5 separate regions of the Homo sapiens genome follow, and regions 1, 2, 4 and 5 are each linked to region 3. Evidence: fine-mapped expression QTL. A gene starts in region 3. Each other region holds a variant in brackets. All regions are shown on one strand. Distances are from middle to middle. Region 1 overlaps KAZN (kazrin, periplakin interacting protein). Region 2 overlaps KAZN (kazrin, periplakin interacting protein). Region 3 holds the start of KAZN (kazrin, periplakin interacting protein). Region 4 overlaps KAZN (kazrin, periplakin interacting protein). Region 5 overlaps KAZN (kazrin, periplakin interacting protein).

The links.
Region 1: its variant is fine-mapped to the expression of KAZN in whole blood (TOPMed, PIP above 0.99).
Region 2: its variant is fine-mapped to the expression of KAZN in whole blood (INTERVAL, PIP above 0.99).
Region 4: its variant is fine-mapped to the expression of KAZN in whole blood (TOPMed, PIP above 0.99).
Region 5: its variant is fine-mapped to the expression of KAZN in whole blood (INTERVAL, PIP above 0.99).

What each region holds. Positions count from the first base shown.
Region 1 is chr1:14,866,807-14,870,924 of GRCh38, reverse strand. All of the region lies in intron 1 of KAZN (kazrin, periplakin interacting protein), which reads right to left. Among named protein-coding and RNA genes, the nearest start is that of KAZN, 270 kb to the right of the region's middle. RefSeq lists an enhancer at 2,320-2,820. The variant C/T (reference allele first, on the strand shown) is at 2,009.
Region 2 is chr1:14,872,759-14,876,876 of GRCh38, reverse strand. The region is part of intron 1 of KAZN (kazrin, periplakin interacting protein); the gene reads right to left. Among named protein-coding and RNA genes, the nearest start is that of KAZN, 280 kb to the right of the region's middle. The variant TCCAG/G (reference allele first, on the strand shown) is at 2,403.
Region 3 is chr1:14,596,144-14,600,261 of GRCh38, reverse strand. KAZN (kazrin, periplakin interacting protein) reads right to left here and starts at 1,577. Exons shown (of 15, transcript NM_201628.3): 1 at 1,039-1,577. The coding sequence starts at 1,264. RefSeq lists a silencer at 751-910.
Region 4 is chr1:14,889,182-14,893,299 of GRCh38, reverse strand. The region is part of intron 1 of KAZN (kazrin, periplakin interacting protein); the gene reads right to left. It overlaps LOC107985469 (a long non-coding RNA gene), which reads left to right. Exons shown (of 3, transcript XR_001737616.2): 2 at 3,276-3,339. Among named protein-coding and RNA genes, the nearest start is that of TMEM51-AS1, 260 kb to the left of the region's middle. The variant G/A (reference allele first, on the strand shown) is at 2,104.
Region 5 is chr1:14,880,961-14,885,078 of GRCh38, reverse strand. All of the region lies in intron 1 of KAZN (kazrin, periplakin interacting protein), which reads right to left. Among named protein-coding and RNA genes, the nearest start is that of TMEM51-AS1, 270 kb to the left of the region's middle. RefSeq lists enhancers at 3,082-3,141, 3,152-3,201. The variant C/G (reference allele first, on the strand shown) is at 2,183.

The sequences.
Region 1 (4,118 bases), 270 kb before region 3:
CGGCCATTCATATGATGAGTCTTAATTTCTTATCATTCTGGTAGGGTTGGGCCTGGTGAGATTTCTTGCACACTTGGTTGTGGAGTAAGATTCATATATGTAATAATGAGAACAGTGTGGCCACAGTGACACATAGTGCCACACAACCTTCACAACAAATGCCCCCGATTGAGAGCTGACCATGGGCCATTAATTGTGCCAGATGTGAAGCTCCTCATCTCATGAAGCATCACAGCAGCTCATGAGGGAGTCACGGTCGTGAACCCCATTTAACAGATGAGGAAAACCGGGCCTGGGGGCTCACACCTGTAATCCCAGCACTTTGGGAAGCCAAGGTGGGCAGATCACTTGAGGTCAGGAGTTTGAGAGTAGCCTGGCCAACATGGAGAAACCGCGTCTCTACTAAAAATACAAAAATTAGCCAGTGTGGTAGTGCATGCCTGTAATCCCAGCTACTTGGAGGCTGAGGTGGGAGAATCACTCGTACCCAGGAGGTGGAGGTTGCAATGAGCCAAGATTGTGCCATTGCACTCCAGCCTGGGCGACAGAGCAAAACTCTGTCTCAATACAAACACACAAAAAACAAAAAACAGTTGAGGAAACAGGGCCAGAGAAGTTAAGCCATTTGTTCAAAGTCACACAGCAAGTGAGGAGCAGAGCTGGGACTCACCCTTCACCCTGTCTTAACTCCAAAGCCTGTGGTCTTTTGGTTTTGAGTAGAAGGGTCTGATTTTTCCCAGTATCCAGGCCCTAGACTCCATGTTCAAGGAATCTCCCCAGCAGTCGTCTGAAGGTCAAAGCCAAGGTCAAGGCCAGGCCCAGTGCTCCTGGACAGATACTGGGATTTTCCACAGAGATGAGACCCTGAGTTTTTCATCTCATTGGGGAAAAATCTGGACATTCTACCTTCCATGTGATTTTTCTTACCTCTCTGTCATTTTTCCCCGGATACCTTGGGATTAATGGCAAAGTAATGCCGGGGTGGGTGTTGGGTGGCTTCAGGAAGGAAGGGGCTGAGGGCAGGAGACCGGTACAACCCAGCAGCCACCACATGGAACAAGGCTTTTAATAACACTGGATTTTTCCAGCAGGTCTGTGCGCTAATTAAACCTGCTCCTCGCAGCCACTGCAAAATGAAGGGAGTCTCACCTGAAAGCTTGTAATTTGCCAACACGAAGGAGAACAGAAGCAAGTACTCAAACATTACCCACAACCACTGCTTTGGAATATTGATTAGCAAGAGACGAGGCACATGCCAGCTTTCAACCCCTCGAACCCAATCAGAATCAATATTTCTCTCCTCAGAGTGCAGAGGAGAAGACCCTTTCAATTCCGATCCAGAAAGAGCCCAGGGGCTGTGACATCTGCCAGCCCTACTGTCCTGTTCTGCTTCACTGAAAATGCTAGCATAGGTGAAGATATAAAAATTACAGAACTCATCAAAAGATATTATAAAGCCCCAGCCACACATCCTAATGACTCACAAAATGACTAGTCTCCAGCATGCAGCCTGTAATTAGAGCCTCGCTGTGCAGAATATACAGTCACAGCCCCTGCGTTGAGGCTCCATAAAGAGTCCAGAGTCTGACCCCTGAATTGTGCTCACACAGGGAAGGCAATGAAAGGTCGCGAGCTCACCCTGAGAAGTGAGAAAAAATCCTCAGAACCTGGAAGAGCTTGAGACTGTGCAAAAGGGAAGTGGAGATTTAAAGGAGCAAACTGGAAGGGTCAAGACAGGCAGGAAGGGGATGGTGGAAGCTGGAATACTAAACTTCGATCCCAACCTGCGGCTAGAATAGGATCCAGCTGTCATGGCTTTGGCAAGTCTGCGGTTCTCACTAGGACACATCCCAAGGTGCTAGCAGGAACTAGAGAAGGGGAATCTGGCATCCTGACTAGCATTTTGTGGGTACCCACAATACCACCGGGGCCCCCAAGCTGGAGTGGGGGACACAGATCAACAAGGGAAAAATCACCGAGTAGAACAGATGCACCCCCCCGCCAACCC[C/T]GATTCAGTTCTCTTATCTTGGCCCCATTTCGGATTATTTATTATTATTTTTACTTAGCTATTAAGTTTTTTAGAGTTGGGGTCTCATTCTGTTGTGCAGGCTGGAGTGCAGTGGCATGATCATAGCTCACTGCAGCCTTGAGTTCCTGGGCTCAAGAGATCCCCCCACCCCAGCCTCCCTAGTAGCTGGGACTACAGGCACACGCCACCATGCCTGGCTCCTCTTGGCCCCATTTCTGGAAGGACATGCAGAGATGAAGACAGCTGCAGAGGAGCCTACTAGATTCCCCTCCCCAAACTCAAAGTCTGCCCAGATGTTCTGGGTCTACAAGACTCCAGTTCACCCAGTGGAAAAGTGGTAATGGTTAGACATTCACTTCAAGAAGGGCCCACGGGGAAGTGGTTAAGATTTCAGCCTCTGGAGTCACTAATCTTGGTTTCAAATCCCAGGTCTTGTAACGTGTGGCCCTAGATGAGTTGCTCCAACTCTGAGCCTCAGTTTCCCCATCTATAAAATGGCTCCCATCCCAGGAAAGTGTTAGAAAGCCCACAGCCTGGTACCCTCTAATTGCCCAATAGATGCAATAGCAATTAGTAGTAAAGACAGCCATTGGGTCTAAGAACAGTTCCCCTCCAGTGGCCTCAGACGCAGCCCTGGCTGTGCGTATGTGATGCCATGTGTTTGCAATGCCTGCGTATGCGATGCCTGCGTATGTGATGCGTGCTATTTGATGCCTGCCTATGCGATGCCCGCCTATGCGATGGCTGCGTATGTGATGCCGTGCTATGTGATGCCCGTGTATGCAATGCCTGTGTATGTGATACCGTGCGTATGTGATGCCTGTGTATGCAATGCTGTGCGTATGTGATGCCATGCTATGCGATGCCATGCCTGTGTGATGCCCACGTTTGTGATGCCTGTGTATCCAATGCCTGCATATGCGATGCCTGCCTATGCAATGCTGTGCTTATGTGAGGCTGTGCCTGCCCACTGCTGTCCTCCCTGTAGCCAGGTCATGTCTGTCTCCTCTCCACCTATCCAAGTGCAGTCCACAGCCTTATATACATCACTGGCTCAGCCCAGGAAAGCTGAGGACATAGCCAGGGACAAGCCCCAGACGAGGGGCCATGCCAGCTGACCTGCCTGCTGCCCTTTGCCCCAATGCCTCCATGCCCAGGGTGGGGGGGGGGGTGTCTTCAAAGACACCGAGTAAAGCAGAGACAGAAGTCACAGTCCTAGCAAAAGCACCTGAATAGGATGACTGCTGTTGTCATTAATAACACAAACAGCAGCACCTGACATCAGTCTACGGACAACTACGTGCTCTGTCATTTCATCCTCTCGGCGTCCTTGCGAGATGGAAGCTAGTAGTTTTCCTACTTCACAGAGCTGGAAACAGGCACAGAGAAGTCAAAAAGCCTGTCTTACCTGGAGCCCAGCTGGAGGATGCACCATCCCTGAACCCAACGGTAACTCTATCATCAGCACCATGGCCAGAGTCAGGTCCCGGGGGAATACAATGGTCTTGGGCTTTCTATTTTGGTGCCTGGTCTAAGTCTAGTGCAGTTTTTGTCCTCTGCTTCTCTCTCAGCCCACTCACAGCCTCAGTGCAAAATAAATCTCCCCACTCTCCCCACTCTCGCAGATCTCACAAAACAACAGACCTTCAAGGCAAAAGAGGAGGGAGAGGGGAGCAAAGGACTCCGAGAGGCCTCCACGCTCCATTGATCACAGGGCCCTGAACGTGGCTGCTCCCCTGCACAGGGAGGGCCCTGGCTGGGCCTTGGCCAAGCATTGTAGCAGAGGAGGCCTGGAAAAAACGAGCCCGAACTTGGGATTCAAGAGAAGGGCATTGCAAGGTCAGCAGTCCATCAGGGAGGCAGGGGCGTGGCCAGCCTCACTTAGCATCCTGCTTCTTTTCTGTCTTCTCCAATCCAAATTTATGCCATGACAATAACAGCATTCTCCATTATTGTGTATCTCCACTGATCTCAAGAGGTGTCCATAGACCAGGGTCTCCCCACAGCTCAGGCCAGCACAGATTCCATGCCTGGGGCCTCAGATTAGGTGTCCGGATGCTCATGGAGTGAGGCCCAAGGTCTTGGAAGG
Region 2 (4,118 bases), 280 kb before region 3:
AAAGTAGATGACTTTGCAGTATTCTAAGTGGTAAGACAAGACTTCCCCAAATCTAGACATGCCTATCTACAAAAAGGTCTGGAGGGAGAATAATAACAGCTAACATTTATTAGCTCTGTGTGACAGGCATCACTTTAAGTGTTTTACGTAGATTACTCATGGATCCTCAAAAGCATACCAATTTTTGGTACTATCATTAGCATCATTATCCTATTTTAGAGATGGGCAGACTAATGTAAACAGAGAAGGTGGGAAGCATACTCAAGGTCACAGAGCTGGTAAGGGGCAGAGTGAGACTTGAATCCAGGCAGTCCAGCTCCAGACCCCACTCCCTCCACTTAACTACTACACAACGCTGTGTCTGCTTCCCCTGCAAAGACCTGCACAGGAGTGATGGTCCTAAACCCAGGTTCCTACCTGCAATTTCAAGGTGTGTCCTCCCAAGCATCTGTTCTTTGCTCTGTTGCCAAAGGCATGTTTAATCACCTGCCTAGAGTTCCTTTCCTGGCTTGCATAATAATGAGCCCACAGCAGCTACTATCGCTAATGTCATTCTGGCTGCTGGCTGCATTTGCGCATGTAATAAACGCAGCTACCACAAGATTGGAAATTGGACAGGTGACAACAGAGGCTGTGATTGTGCAGATCAGATTGAGGACAGGGAACTGATAACACTGACAATTCCATAAAGCCATCACCTCATCTATTGTTTCTCACCTCCGCGGCAAGCCTCTGAGGTGCCCTAATGAGGTAAGATCCTAACATCTGTTAAGATCACAGTCCCACTTGGCTTGTCTGGGCTTTCTTCTTCCTCCTTGCCTCAGTCAAACAACTGCTTTTAATCTCTCCATTCAGAGGAGCGGCTCACTCTCACTTCACTGTCATCACACAGAGCTTGAAGCAGGGGGTGTCAACTGTGAAAGTTTGCAGGGCAACACATCTTCCCGAGCATCTCTGTTGATGTGGCAGTCATGCCTGGGCTGAAATCTACCCCCTTCCAGGAAAGCAGGAAATTCCCGAGGTCACACTTCAGATTGATCTCAGAAAACCTCTTTCTTGATAGTGAAGGCAACAGGCAGTGGTGTACTGGCAAGTGTTTAACAATCAACTGTGGAGGGTTGGGCGAAGGAGCCCTGATTTGTAGTCATTGCCAGTTTCCATGGTGTACGTACTCTCATCATCAATTTTAAGCCACCAGTATGAGGCTTATAACATTCCTGAAAATGTAACTATTGGCTCTCAGGAGCCTGGAGCAGACCCCAGCACATCCTGCGTAGGAAGCCTGGTCTGTGCCTCATGCCTCCTAAGAATCCAGTGATTTTCACTATTAGGAGAAGGAAGAAATGGCTTCATTGAAAATAGTTTTTTTTTCTTTTTTCTTTTTTTTTTTTTTTAATAAATTAAGGACAATGCAAGGCAGGGAAGACAAGAGTTCAGCTTCCATGCTCACCCAATAAATGATAACAACAACCAAATAAACCCATAAAAAGATAAATAACATTTACATAAAATGTCTTACAATTTTTTTTTTTTTTTTTTTTTTTTGAGACAGAGTTTCACTCTTGTTGCCCAGGATGGAGTGCAATGGCATGATCTCGGCCCACTGCAACCTCTGCCTCCCGGGTTCAAGTGATTCTCCTGCCTCAGCCTCCTGAGTAGCCGGGATTACAGGCATGCACCATCATGCCGGGATAATTTTGTATTTTTAGTAGAGACGGGGTTTCTCCATGTTGGTCAGGCTGGTCTTGAACTCCCAATCTCAGGTGATCTGCTTGCCTCAGCCTCCCAAAGTGCTGGGATTACAGGTGTGAGCCACCGCACCTGGCCACAAATTTACAGATATATCTGAGACCTTTCCTCATTTGGCTTTAACATGGAGGAATCTCCAGGGACCCCCACTTGCAGAGGTAGGTGGCTGCGCAAATCTGCTCTTCCAGAAAGGAAGGGAGATTTGGCAAAGCATCAGTTTGGCAAATGGAAATACAAAACCAAGTAAGTCTAGGATCCCAGAGTTAGTTTTTTTTCCTCTCATTTTCTTCCTTTCCTTTCCCTTCTCAAACCTTAAAAGGGGAAACATTCGACCAAGAGCATTATGGGTAATCCAGAGAAGGATAATCAAACCAGAAGATGTCAAGATTCTCATCTTATAGCAAACACAGGTCACACCAGGATTTCTGGGCTGGATCCAAAAAGTTGGGTGAATGGAGAAGGAGATTGGTTTTGACAGCTTTTGGTTCTGGCACACGGAGTGTCAGGCAACAGTTGCTTAATTGCTGTCACAGGTGACAAGATGGTGCAGTTACCTGCAGTAGTTAAGTTAGCTGCAGTAGTTAAGTTAGCCTTCCATCCATCTGTCCATCCATCCATCCATCCATCCATCCATCCATCCATCCATCCATCCA[TCCAG/G]TCAGCCAGCTAGCTAGCGATTCATGCCACCATTCCTCTGAAACAACTCAAGGTCACCAATGACATTATTAAATCCAGTGGTCACCTTTCCAGCCCCTCTTACTTAATCTGTCAGCAGCATCTAACAGTTGAACACTCTCTTCCGGACACATGTCACTTCTCTACTGGTTTCTTCCTACCTCACCAGCTGTTCCTTTTCAGTAGCCTTTGTTGGATCCTCTTCCCCCTTCCGACCTCCAAATGTTGGAGGACTCCAGAGCTCAATCCTTGGATTCTCTATCTGTACTCACTTGTCTGGTATCGTGGCTTTAAATATCATCTGTATATGCTGATGATTCCCAAATGGATATGACCAGCCCTGTCCTCTCCCTTGAAATTTGGACAGTCAACTCTCAGATGATTAATAGACATCTCTAACCTAGCATACTCCAAACTGAGCTCCTGATTTCCTCCTGGCCCACCCCCTCTAAACTCGCTCCTGCCCCTGTCTTCTCTATTTCAAGAAATGACAAGTGCTTTCCTTCCAGTTACTCAAGGGTGCATCTCTGGAATCATTCTGGACTTCTCCTTTTTCTCCTACCCACCACATCCACCACGTCAGTTCTGCTGGCTCTACCTTTGAACTAGATACTGAATCTCGCCACTTTGCCCCACTTTGCACTGCTCTCTCCCTGGTCCCAGCCACCACAAACTCATGCCTAGATGATTGCAGTAGCTTCCTTATTTGTCTCCGGCACCTGCCTTTCCTCCCTAGAGTCTATTTTCAACACAACATAAATATATGTCAGATCCAATCCCTCCTCTTCTCAAAGCCCACCACTGGCTTCTCATTTCACTGAGAGGAAAGCAAAGTCTTCCAAAAGCCTGAAAGGCCCCTGGCTCCCTCTGACCTCCTCTCCTTTTACATTTCCTCTCCTCCCACACTCTGGTTTAGCCATGCTAGCCTTCTTCTGTTCTCTCTGCTTTTCCCTCAGATCTCTGCATAGCTCACTTCCTCCCTTCCCTCAAGGCTTTCTCAAATGCTGCTTTACCAAAGAGACCACCCTATGTGAAACAGCAGCCCCATTATTCTGCATCCCTCTTCCCCACTTTATTTTCCTTCATAGTGCTTACTGCTACTAGAAATTCTTTATGCTATTTGTTTTCTTCTTGAACATCTGACTCTCCCCTTTAGAATACAGTCTTTCTGAAAGCAGGAGCTTTGTCTGTGTTATTATTCTATCCCTAACTACTTGAATAATGCCTAGTGCATAGCAGGTGACAGAAGGAATGAATGGATGAATCCATCCACCCATCCATTCATCTATCTGTCCATCCATCCATCCTTCCATCCATCCATCCATCCACCCATCCATTCATCTATCTGTCCATCCATCCATCCTTCCATCCATCCATCCATCCACCCATCCATCCATCCACCCACCGATTCATCTATCTATCCACCCACCCATCCATCCATCCATCCATCCATGTATCCTTCTATATGTTCTTCTACTCATCTTTCCATCCATCCATCCATCCATCCATCCATCTATCCATCCATCCATCCATCCACCCAACCATCCATTTATCCATATATCCATTCACCCATCCATCCACCCATCTATTCATCTATGTATCCGTCTGTACATCCATCCATTTGTCCTTCCACCCATCCATCTGTACGTCCATCCATCCATCCACCTATCCATTCATCTGTCCACTTGTCCATC
Region 3 (4,118 bases):
CTTGCACTTCAAGTGACATATTTAGACAAGTGGACCTCATGGACTGGAGATTTGTTTCTGTCCTGTTCTGGATTTCAGCAGTTTAATTTGCAATTCAAATGATATTAATAACCAGTGATACTGTTTCTTAAAGGGCAATTAGGCAAAAAGAAAAAAAAAATCCCCCAAAGCCTGCTTACCCTTTTACTTTCTAAGTCACAGAAACCAAACAGTACATTTTAGGGAATGCCCCATCCGCCTTTATGTCTTGCAGGGGGTTTCAGAGCTTAATCTCTGTCAATGTGAACACAAACCAACTGTCTTTTTCTTCCTCTTCTCTAAACCGCAGAGTCCCTTCAAACGGGCTCCCTGCAGCCCACCACCCTAAGCCTTCATTTCTCTACCGCTCAACCTTTGAGGTCTACAGTATCCCCCTGGAAAGTGCTCTCGGTGTTTATATTTGCGGAAATTTAAACTCCCTGCTGAGCTGAGCATCTACTGTTGCATCTATAGATTCCAATGCCTGAGAGACCTCAAATGAGAAGAAAATAAAGTCCAGATGCAACTGAGCCAAGGGATTTGGCATCCGCGGAGAAAAGTGCACAGCAGTGCAATCCTCTATCCCAACCACGGCGGCAGAGCCCGGAGCTCTCTCTGGGAAGGAGCCTAAGGAAGTGGGGGGAACTGTGCCATTCACCCCTGCGGGGGGTGGGGAAAAGGCCCCGGCATGAAAAGTTTGCACGGAGCTAGGGGGCTGGTGCCACGGAAAGGGCACTTTCTGATGCCGGAAGGGACCCGCCGGCTGCGCCTCGCTCAGGCTGGCCGGGGCCGGTGTGACCGTGTGACCCCGTGCACACTGCGCTCGGGTTTTCGTGAATGACAGCAGCCTGCAACTCCCAGCCGGAGAGCAGCGGTGGCCACCGCCGGGCGGAAAGGGTTACAAGCCAGAATGCAAAGCGATTTCGCCCCGGGTGTGGGGGACCCCGGGTCCCCGGCCACCTCCGAGGCCGGGCGTGCTCTGCTCGCCTTCCTCCGCCCTGGGCGCCGGGGCGATCCTACCTTGCGCTCCAAGCTGGGGGTTCTCCATGTTCGTCGCCGCCGAGTCCCCCGCCGCCGAGGCGCTGGCCGCGGCTCCCGGGCCCGGGCCGGGGCCGCCGCCGCCGCTCAGTTCCGCCAGTCTCCGGTTGGTGGCCGTGAGTTCGGCTCGCAGGTTGGTCACCTCCTGGCTGGCCGACTGGACCGCCCCATCGATGCGGAGCGCGAGCTGCTTATTGTCTTCCATCATGCTCAGGATTTTGGCCTGGGGGCGAGAGAGGTGACAAAGAGCTGCATGATGCGCGGGGGGCGCGCGGCCGGGCACCCCCGGCTCTACCTGTTGTGTCCTCCGCGGCCCGGCTTCGCCCGCGCCCCGACCCCCAGGCACCGGCAGCGCCGGTTCCTCCGGCACAGGAATGACAGCGGCGCCTCCAGCCCTAGCCGCGGCGGTGGCGAGGCGGCGGGGGGAGGAGGCGGAGGAGAAAAAAGAGGAGGAGAAGGAGGAGGAGGAGCAGCGATCGCCGAGACCCCGGCGGGCGGGCGCCGAGAGCTGCTCCAAGAAGGACACCGCGCGCCACCAGGCACTCTTTAAATGGAGCCTACCATTCGCCGCCGGCTCGGGAGGGGGTCTCGGTCGGAGGCTGGGGGCACCCTTGGCCTCCCGCGCCCCCGTACTTCGGAGACACACCCCCCGGGGGGGCGGAGGCGGCGGACGGCAGTCGGGAGGGGGCCAAGGTGGCGCCCCTGGCGAGGGGCAGGGGTCGCCTGGACCGAGGCCGGCCCTCTGTCCCCTCCCTTGAGCGGTGGGGCAGCCCCCGCCCTGGAGAACTGGTGCCCCGAGCCGTGCTAAGGTTGGGGAGGTGCTGGGTGCTCGGAAGAGAGGGTGCTTGGAAAGGGGGCCTCAGAGGGGAGCCGGGGTGGATCTCCATGGAAGGGAGACGCTTGCGCCAGCTCAGGAGTGGAGTTCGTGCTCCACCGGTTCCTTAAACTGCGAGTACGAAATCCCCAGAGGGGAGCTGAGCTGGTGCCCCGCGTGCCTCTCACTCTCCACCCCCCACCCGCAGGCCAGACCTGCGCTGCCCACCCCAGGAGGGAGCGCCTATCTTCCTCGGCGTGGGCCGCTGGTGCTCCCGCCTCTCCACAGCCCTAGCCCTGTGTGTGCATCCAGGTGGAGGAGCAGCCTTAGCCAGCTCCTAAGCTTCTTAGCCGGGCTGAATATTGGCGGGGACAGAGATGAGGTTGAGAGATAAGAAGGAAGGCGTCGATGGGGCTTCTTCCCTTTCTTCTACTGGGAGCAGAAGAGTTGAGCCCTGCTGCCTCAGTTTACCCATCCCCTCTTCACAGAAGAACTGAGGTAACCTGACGTTGATATGCCCTCTCCAGCTCCTCTTTCTCTCCCAGACCACAGGCTTTGCATTTTTCACTGGGGCCCTGGATTCCAGCCACCAGACCTTGTTACCATAGCAAACTTCATTCCATGCAAATAGGACAATTTAAAACAGCCAGCAACCCTCTGGTCAACAGGGCGCCATCATTCCAGCTCAGTCAACCTCCGGAGAGCAGCAAAGAGCAGATTGCAGAAGCCAGTGGGGTGCTGCGAGGAAAAATGAGGCTGCCCACCCTTCAGGTTCTTACAGGAAGCCCATAAGAACCAAGCAAAAACTGCGTGTAGAGTGCTTTTATATGCATTCTTATCTCTTGTGAGTGAGGATTATTATTCCCATTTTAGGGATAAGGAAACTGAGGCTCTGCATAGGGTTAAGCAATTTACTTAAGGGGCCCGCAGAAACCAGGTGACAGCGGGACTGGAAGAAAGTAATCATCTGATTGCAAGTTCCTCCTGCTGCGCCTTCAGGAGGCCTTGGATGATAGATTTCTCCCCCCTTTTCTGTGGAACCATAAAAACAGTCTTGCTCCATTCCCCTGTGACCACTAACAAGCTTTTGCAAGAGGGCAGGATTTGATGGTGGAGCATGTGGCAGGAAGACACAATTCTTCACTCTGTCCGCTCTGCTCAGCTAATGGGTCAGTTCGGGGATCGAACCCTGACCTTAACCTCATTAACACAAGTTCTTACCAACTGGACCAACCAAGGCACTTAGAACTGCTTAGTGTATCTGCAAACCAGGATTCAGTTCTTTGCAGTCTTTCAGTTACGTTATGGGGAGAGCATCAAAACTACAGAGCTGTGTGGGTCTTGAAAAGGGGGATGCCGTGGTGCAGCCATTGTGGAAAACATATTAGCAGTTCCTTGAACAGTTAAACATAGGATTACCATACGACCCAGCAAATCCACTCCTAGGTATATGTCCAAAACAAATATCCAAACAAAAATTTGTACATGAATGTTCATAGCAGCACTGTTCATTAGTAGCCAGAAGGCAGAAATAACCCAAATGTCCATCAACAGATGATTGGATGAACAAATTGCAGTATGCAATGGAATATTACTCAGCCGTGAAGAGTACTGATACATGCTACTACTACGTGGATGAAGCTCCAAAACATTATGTTAGTTGAAAGAAGCCCGACATAGAAGGTCACATATTATACGATTCAATTTATATGAAATATCCAGAATAAATAAATCCATGAAACAGGAAGCAGATTGGTGTTTGTCAGGGGCTGTGGGGAGGGAAGAATGAGAAGTAACTGCTTAATAGGTGCCGGGTGTTACTTTGTGCTGACTGATGAAAATGTTTTAGAACTAGACAGAGGTGGTGGTGGCACAACACGGTGAATGTACTAAGTGCCATTGAATTGTTCACTTTAAAGGGCTTAATTTCATGTTATGTAAATTTTACCTCAATCAAAAAGTCATATATGCAAATACACAAATAGAGAGGATGGGAATGTTTTGGAACTAGGGCTTCTGAGCAAACAGTTAAGAGTAGCTCTATTTAGAGGGCCGTGTGTGTGTGTGTGTGTGTGTGTGTGTGCGCACACGTGTGCGTGCACTCACACCTCTGGTATAGCACTCAGCAGAAGAAACAGTAATTTATCTGTTTATATGTCTCTCTCCCACTTCACTGGGAACTTGTGGGTGGGGGAAGGAGGGTTATCCGGCTTTTTATGTCATTCATCTTTGCGTCCTTGCCGCCCTA
Region 4 (4,118 bases), 290 kb before region 3:
CTGCCTCCTGGGCTCCAGAGATTCTTCTGCCTCAGCCTCCCAAGTGGCTGGGATTACAGGCACGAGCCACCACGCCCAGCTACATTTCGCATTTTTAGTAGAGACAGGGTTTCACCATGTTGGTCTGGTTGGTCTCGAACTCCTGACCTCATGATCCACCTGCCTCGGCCTCCCAAAGTGCTGGGATTACAGGCATGAGCCACCACACTGGCCTCTATTTTCCTTTTAAAAATGATTATTTGACTTCCTCCTGTAGATCATCAGCCTTATGACAGTAGGGACCAGTCTAATCAGTCTAATTCTGTTCACTCTATCCTAGCACCTAGAATTGTGCCTGCTACGTAGTAGGTGCTTGTAAATATTTGTGGAGGACTGCATGAATGAGGAATAATCTTAGGAGACTGGTCCTTCCTCTGTCCATTCCTTTTTTCCTTTCTTCTGGAAGCTTTTGTGTGTGTGTGTGTAGGTATTGGAGATACAAGATGAGTGGGCTGGTTTGCCTGGGCCCAGGCCACCGGAGCCTGCAGGAGGCCCCCACAGCCCCGTGGCACAAGTGTCCTGGGCTCACCTGCCCAAGTCTGAGGACATGAACACACACCCCTATGAACCCTGAGCCATGGGCAGGGGTGGTGGGCAGTGATGCAGACAGAGGTCATTCGAAAGCTTGCTCTGGAGACACCTTCTGGGGTGTCTCTGCAACCTTCTAGCACTTTCCCTTCCACTCTGTCCTTTGCAGACCTTGTAGAAAAACCTGTGGGGTGGGCTCCCATGGGCTGTCAGGGGAGGGAGAAGCTCCATGGTGGTGTCTGGGGGGAAACAAGCCTGAGATTACAGGCCTTCAGATGATCCAGGGATTGTAGGATACAGAGAGAAAGAGAGACAGCAGGGGGGAGGGGGAAAAAGGAGAGAGAGAGGGAAAAAGAGAGAGAGATGCCTCTGAAAGACAGATGCCTCTCTTCCCATAATGAAGGCACAGGAGGGCATCTTGGGACCTGGGTCATCAGAGATGGCTGGAGGCGAGCCCCGGGGCAGGGACTGAACTCTCTTCTGCCAGGAGTGTTTTCTTCCTGGAGTTCTGAGAGAATTTAGTGTTTGTGGCAGGTGCTGGGCTGGGCTCCCTAGAGACCTTGAGACTCCATTTGGGCCAGGAATGGGAGCACAGATGACGGCAGGGTCACCATCCCATCTGGGCTCTGCCTGCTGCCTTGAGGAGGCATTTACTTCAGGGGTCTGCACCACACCAGAGGCCAGAGGCAGGAGGTAGGGACGGGGGCATGTTGAACTTTCCTGACACCTTCCAGTAGCTTCTGGGTCATAGCAACAGGCAGGGCCAGATGTAAGACTCCCTGACACCAAGAAGCCTCACATAATCAGAGCCGACTAACGGAGGCTCATGGACACGTCTTACTGCCCCATCCCACCCCCAACCATGGAAATAACTTCAGAGATTTCTTTTTCATTTTAGAAGAAATAGCTATTCATTGCATAAAATTCAAACAAGTTGGAGAAAGTACAAAGAAAAAAAAAGTATAAATCACCTGTAAAATCCCACTACCCCCGTTAATACTTTTTTGGCTTTTCTTCTCTCCTAAAGAAACATAATGACATAGAATTTTCCAGAAATCAGCATGACACAGGCTAACTTGCTTTTAGAAAAAACAATTCAACGGTATTCCATGGACATTTTCCCATGTAAATAAATACAGTGTTAAAGCAGTGGTCTTTAACTGCTTTAGCCCAGCACACACATGGGAAGTGCTGGGAAGCTTGTTAAAATACAGATTCCTTACTACTCAGCCATAAAAAGGAAAGTTAATGGCATTCGCAGCAACCTGGATGGGATTGGAGACTATTATTCTAAGTGAAGTAACTCAGGAATGGAAACCCAAACATTGTATGTTCTCACTCATAAGTGGGAGCTAAGCTATGAGGACGCAAAGGCATAAGAATGATACAATGGACTCTGGGGACTCAGGGTAAAGGGTGGGAAGGGGGTGAGGGATAAAAGACTACAAATTGGGTTCAGCGTATACTGCTATGGTGATGGGTGCACCAAAATCTCACAAATCACCACTAAAGAACGTACTCATGTAACCAGACACC[G/A]CCCGTTCCCCAAAAACCTATGGAAACAATAAATTTTTAGAAATACAGATTCCTGCCAGGCGCGGTGGCTCACACCTGTAATCCCAGCACTTTGGGAGGCCGAGGCGGGTGGATCACGAGGTCAGGAGATCGAGACCATCCTGGCTAACACGGTGAAACTCCATCTCTACTAAAAATACAAAAAAGTTAGCCGGGCGTGGTGACGGGTGCCTGTAGTCCCAGCTACTCTGGAGGCTGAGGCAGGAGAATGGCGTGAACCCGGGAGGCAGAGCTTGCAGTGAGCTGAGATCCGGCTACTGCACTCCAGCCTGGGCGACAGAGCGAGACTGCTTCAAAAAAAAAAAAAAAAAAAAAAAGTCCAGATTCCTGGCTGGGCACAGTGGCTCATACCTGTAATCCCAGCACTTTGGGAGGCTAAGGTGGGAGGATTACTTGAGCGTAGGAGTTTGAGACCTGCCTGGGCAACACGGCAAGACCCCAGCTCTAGATTAAAAAAAAATACAGATCTTTGGGTCCCATTCTGAGATTCATCAGTGGATCCGCCGTGGGGCCCGGAAGTCTGTATACTGAGAAAGCCCACAAGAGGACTCTGATTCACGCCCGTCATTCAGAATCCTGATCTATGGCCTGCCTTTAAAAATAACCTTCTCTATCTTTTTAAAAGGCGGGCAGAAAGGAAAAAAAAAAGATTTAAATTTGCTATCAGGAATTTTAAAAATGTTCAGCTTTTAGGGGATGTCACAGGTTTGACAGATTCAGTTTCTTTGTCCTATACTTTTTGCAGCGGGACGATGTCCCACTGGTGGGGACTGGTGCCCGGGAGATTCTGGGTCTGCGTGCCATTCTCGGGCAGTGGAGAGATTTCCCATCAGGAAAATGGGCTTTGCACACAGCTGAGAAACCTCTCCCCAGGGGCAATCCAGAAAGAGCTTTTTGTTCAATCTTCCATTAAAGAGAAATTTCAATTGCCTTGACCAGCCAGAGCATTCCAGCTGACCAGGCTTGACTTGCTTACCCAAAACCCAAACTCGCAGAGCAGGGAAGGGAAAGGCGACTGTTCAGCAAGTTCTGGGAAGCCCCCTCAGGGTCCCTGTGGTAAGCTTCCCGAATCATCTCCAACTGCATTCTGACCTGGGTCTAGGCTTCTCCCTAACTCTTCCTGTGTTCTGCAGGTTGACGACATAAAAAGCCCATTGTAACTCTTCAAGAGGCTGATGTTTGGCTCGAGCGTACGAGGTACTTCTTTTCACTGATGATACTACCCGACACAGTCTGCTAGTTGCCATATTTTGTCATGTAAGACAGGCTTTTTCTGCAAAGGGCCAGGAAGTAAATATTTTCAATGGTCTCTGTCCCAACTGCTCATAAATACATGGGCAAGGCTGTGATCCAGTAACATTTTATTTATGGACACTGCAGTTTGAATTTTGTATAAATTTCACATCGTGAAACATTCTTCTGATTTTTTTCAACCATTTAAAAGTGTACAAACATTCTTGGTTGGTGGGCTGGATTTGGCCTGTGGGCTGTAGTTTGCCAAGAGAAAGCTGGACAGGAATTAAGGAAGGAAGGGTAGGCAGGGGCAGACTTTTCCAGAATTAGAGCTGTACCCCAAGGGGGAATTCTGTCCTAGGAGACAGTGAGTGCTAAGTACACTCTGGACAAGCACCAGACACAGAAGCTGCCTCAGTTTGTGCTCCCCCTGCAAAGCAGAGCCTGAGACAAGGATTTGGGTACAAGGAGTTTCACTCAATATTATATTTCCAAGATGCACCCATGCTTTATATGGCTATAGTGCATCCATTTTACTGCTTTATACTTTCCATTAGGTGACTATATTAGTATATATTTATAATTCCTAGGTCTTTTTGTTCTCTTATTTGTTAATAATTATAAACTCCAAGCCCATTGTGGTAGATTGCTATTTCTCAGAGATATTTTCTGCTCCTTCCTGGGGGACAATAATACTTTTCTCCCATCAATGGCAGATGTGGGCTTGTGACATTTTCTGGTCA
Region 5 (4,118 bases), 280 kb before region 3:
TGCTTGATACCGACGGATAATAGCTCCCTCCCAGGCATTTTCCCGTGAACAATAGTGTCCTCCTTTCCCTGGTGGACTCCCTCGGTGAGCACAGCATTACGATACGTGTTCCGTGATGCTCGATCTCTGCCAGGGTCTAAGGTCCCCTCTGCTCCCCGCCTGTTGGCAGGCCTCTTCCTCCGCCATCGCTGTCGCTGAGAAATGTATTTCTTCTTTGATGGCTCTGAGATAACAACACTTCCTGCTCAGTTATGAAAAACTGTGTGGGGGAAGGCGAGAGGATGGGCCAGCCTCTGGCTATTCACAGTGTGATCCCCAGACCAGCAGCATGGGTCTTACCTGGGACTTGCTAGCAAGGCAGAATCCCAGATCCCACGTCAGAGCTACTGAATCAGAATTGATTTGCATTAAAATTAACAAGCTCCTCATGTGATTTCCATGCACATGAAGTTTGAGAAGCTCTGCTCTAAACGACCTTCGAAAATGCACCCAGCCCTGGACTTCTAAGACTCTAGCAATGAACGTCCTTAATATGGAGAACTTAAGAGTACATATATTCACACCAAAGCCACACAACCTATGCTTCTGTTATATGCATAGTCTTAAACACTGATTTTATTCTTTAATTCAGTGGCACGGTAGAAAATGATGTTTTTGGTGTCAATGTCCTTTGAACTTCTTTTTTCTTGAGATGGAGTCTCGCTCTGTTGCCAGGCTGGAGTGCAGTGGTGTGATCTGGGTTCACTGCAACCTCTGCCTCCCGGGTTCAAGCGATTCTCCTGCCTCAGCCTCCCGAGTAGCTGGGACTACAGGTGCCCGCCACCACACCCAGCTAATTTTTGTATTTTTAGTAGAGACGGGGTTCCACCATGTTGGCCAGGATGGTCTCGATCACCCGGCCTCGTGACCCACCCGCCTCGGCCTCCCAAAGTGCTGGGATTACAGGTGTGAGCCCCCGCGCCCGGCCTGAACTTCTTATTTATAGGCTGTGAGACCCTAGATGAGTGATGTAGTTTCTCTCAGCCTCAGTTTCTTCATCTGTGAAATGGGGAAAATATTGTCTCCCTTACTGGGATTTTGTGGGCACCTAAGAAGACACATACAGATATAAGGACCCCATTCCTGTACCCTATTCTTTCTTGCCTGCCTCTCTCTTCTGTAAAACAGACTGAGGCTGGGAGACCTAAAGGATACAATAGAGCTTCCTATCCCAAACCGTAAGGGGTGTTTGATGATTTAAAGAAAACAAGAGATTCCCAAGTAGGTAACATTCAAATAAGTGGCATGCAAGTTTCAGATTATAGTTCAGGGTTAAGGCAAAGGTAGGCCCCCTGTCTGATTCTTGCCTGGAAGGTCTTGCCTGTGTCCATGTGATGGGGATGGGCTGGCTTTGATAGGGAGGGAGAGCCCTTGAATCTCTTGAAATTAGATCCAATATTGTGTGCAGGTACATTATTCTAATAAGTTCTGCTTGATTTGATTGGGTAGGCGGGAGGTGAGGGATGATGGAGGATGGGAGGAGCGTGTGAAGATAATGCTCCCTTTGGCTGTGACCCAGGGTCTCACCTTTGAAAAAGGTGGGACAGAGGCCACCACTTCCATCCAGTCCTAAGAAAGCCTGCACCCTGCAACAGAAGAGCTCAAGAACCGCTTTTCTTTCTTTCTTTCTTTCTTTCTTTCTTTCTTTCTTTCTTTCTTTCTTTCTTTCTTTCTTTCTTTCTTTTCTTTCTTTCTTTCTCTCTCTCTCTCTCTCTCTCTCTTTCTTTCTTTCTTTCTTTCTTTTGAGATGGAGTTTCGCTTTTCTTGCCCAGGCTGGAGGGCAATGGAGTGATCTTGGCTCACCGCAACCTCCGCCTCCTGGGTTCAAGTGATTCTCCTGCCTCAGCCTCCTGAGTAACTGGGATTACAGGCATGTGCCATCACGCCCAGCTAATTTTGTATTTTTAGTAGAGATGGGGTTTCTCCATGTTGGTCAGGCTGGTCTCGAACTCCCGACCTCAGGTGATCCACCCACCTCAGCCTCCCAAAGTGCTGGGATTACAGGTATGAGCCACCGTGCCCGGCCAAGAACCACTTTTTGAGTTACCCATGAGTGGTTAAGGAGCAGCTCTGGAGAGAGATGTCTGAATTTGACTTCTAGCTCCCTATTTATTCCTCAAATGAACTTTGACAAATCTCTTCA[C/G]CTTTCCACACCTTGGTGTCCTCATCTGTCTAAGGAGGATGATGTCAGTCCCTACTTTACAGGGGTTATTATGAGACTTAAATGAAATAATCCATGGAAAGGTCTTAGAACAGCATCTGGAAGTTTCTAGATGCTCCATAAATGCCAATGAACTTTTAAAACTGTGCTATAATTGCTTTTAGTTTTGCAAGCATTCCGTCTAGCCCTCCACGTGCAGGGAGAAGAAGGGAGGAGCTGTAAGTGATGCTTTAACCTTCCCTTGGTTCCTCAGAGCCAGCACTTCCCTTAGCACTGATTCTTTCACTCCAGCATCTGAAGATCTGGACTGATGGGAAATACCAGGTCTATAACAGAAGCCCTCCTTTATCAAAACCAACCATATGCCTGACCTCGAGCAGGGTGATTTCCACGCATCATTTCACAGCCCCCAAATGGACCAGTCCCCCTACTACAGACAAGGAAACCGAGGCCAAGAGAGATTAAACAACTTGCCCCAGGTGAGAAGCTAACACATGGAAGAGTCTTTAGGGCTGAAGCTTCAATGTTACTGCCGCTGAGTCATTTAAAATAGTCCTGGCTAAAGCATATCTAGCAAAACTTCAGCTTCTTCTAGGAGGGAAAAAAGTTTGTTTGGAATCTCTGAAGTTTAGCTGAGTGCATGCTGAGCTCACGCTCTAACAACCCTGAATTTGCATGAGATAACAACACTTCCTGTTCAGTTATGAAAAACTGTAGGGCAAGGCGAGAGGATGAGCCAGTCTCTGGCTACTCACAGTGTGATCCCCAGACCAGCAGCATGGGTCTTACCTGGGACTCGCTAGCAAGGCAGAATCCCAGGTCCCACGCCAGAGCTACTGAATCAGAATTCAGTAGCCCTAAGGACTCAACAGGTATTTACAGAGTACCAGCTTCAGAGGCAGCTTAGAGTGGACCTGAGAGACACACAGGAGGAGTAGAGAACAGGCCTTTCCCCGGAGGAGCTTACAGTGAGTTCAGAAGAGAAGAGAAAGCTGCCACCACCATAGCCAGCAGCACCTACATTTGTGAATCCAAATCTCATTTAAACAACCATACACAGAAAATAGTAATCTTATCCCCAGTATAAGGATGCAGAAACAAGTTCAGAGGGAGCAAATCGATTCAAAATGGTTCATATGAGGTCTTCTGGCTGGGAAGTGGTCGAGCAGAAACTTGATTCCAGGTGATTTGACACCAGAACCTGTACCTGAACCCACCATGTGGTGCCCTGAAATAATCTCAGACATGAGACTGTAAGTTCCTAGAGGCAGGGACCAGCTCTGCTTGGCTCACCACTGTATTCCCAGGGCTGAGGACAGTGCCTAGCACATAATCAGTATTCTATAAACACTTGCGGATGAAGAGATACATGAACAAATGGAAGATTCGGCAAGATGGCAGACAGTTCCAATGGTACGGGTCACAGAAAGTTTATTTCCTGCCCTCTAGTCCTTCTTGTGCCTTAGTAGCCTCAAATGATTTCCACTTCTCTTCCTCACCCCACCAGGCTGGCATTTCACATGCCAATGGCATTTGTTACTGCCTGTTTCTGCACCTACCAGTTTTGACAAGGGTTGGGAAGTGGTTTGCTGGGACATTATCTGACCTGTCACCCTGCTGGATTTTCTGGTCCAACTGGAAACACCCTGCTTATCATGCGAGAATTTACTTTCAGGGGTGTTCAGCCTAACCTGACTGAGCACAATCTGTGGAGCACTGGCCATGAGTAACTCCAGGAACACAGCTTTGCTGGATATTGGGAAAGAGCAATTTGGCTGTGAGCTCAGTTACCGCATGCTCCAAGAATGGATCCTGTGCCCACAGCACTTCACAGAGGCCTCAGGAGCACAAGGCATGCTGGACTGTCATTCGTTTTCTTACCTCATTGTTTTCCCCATGTTAACTGGAGGCTATTCAC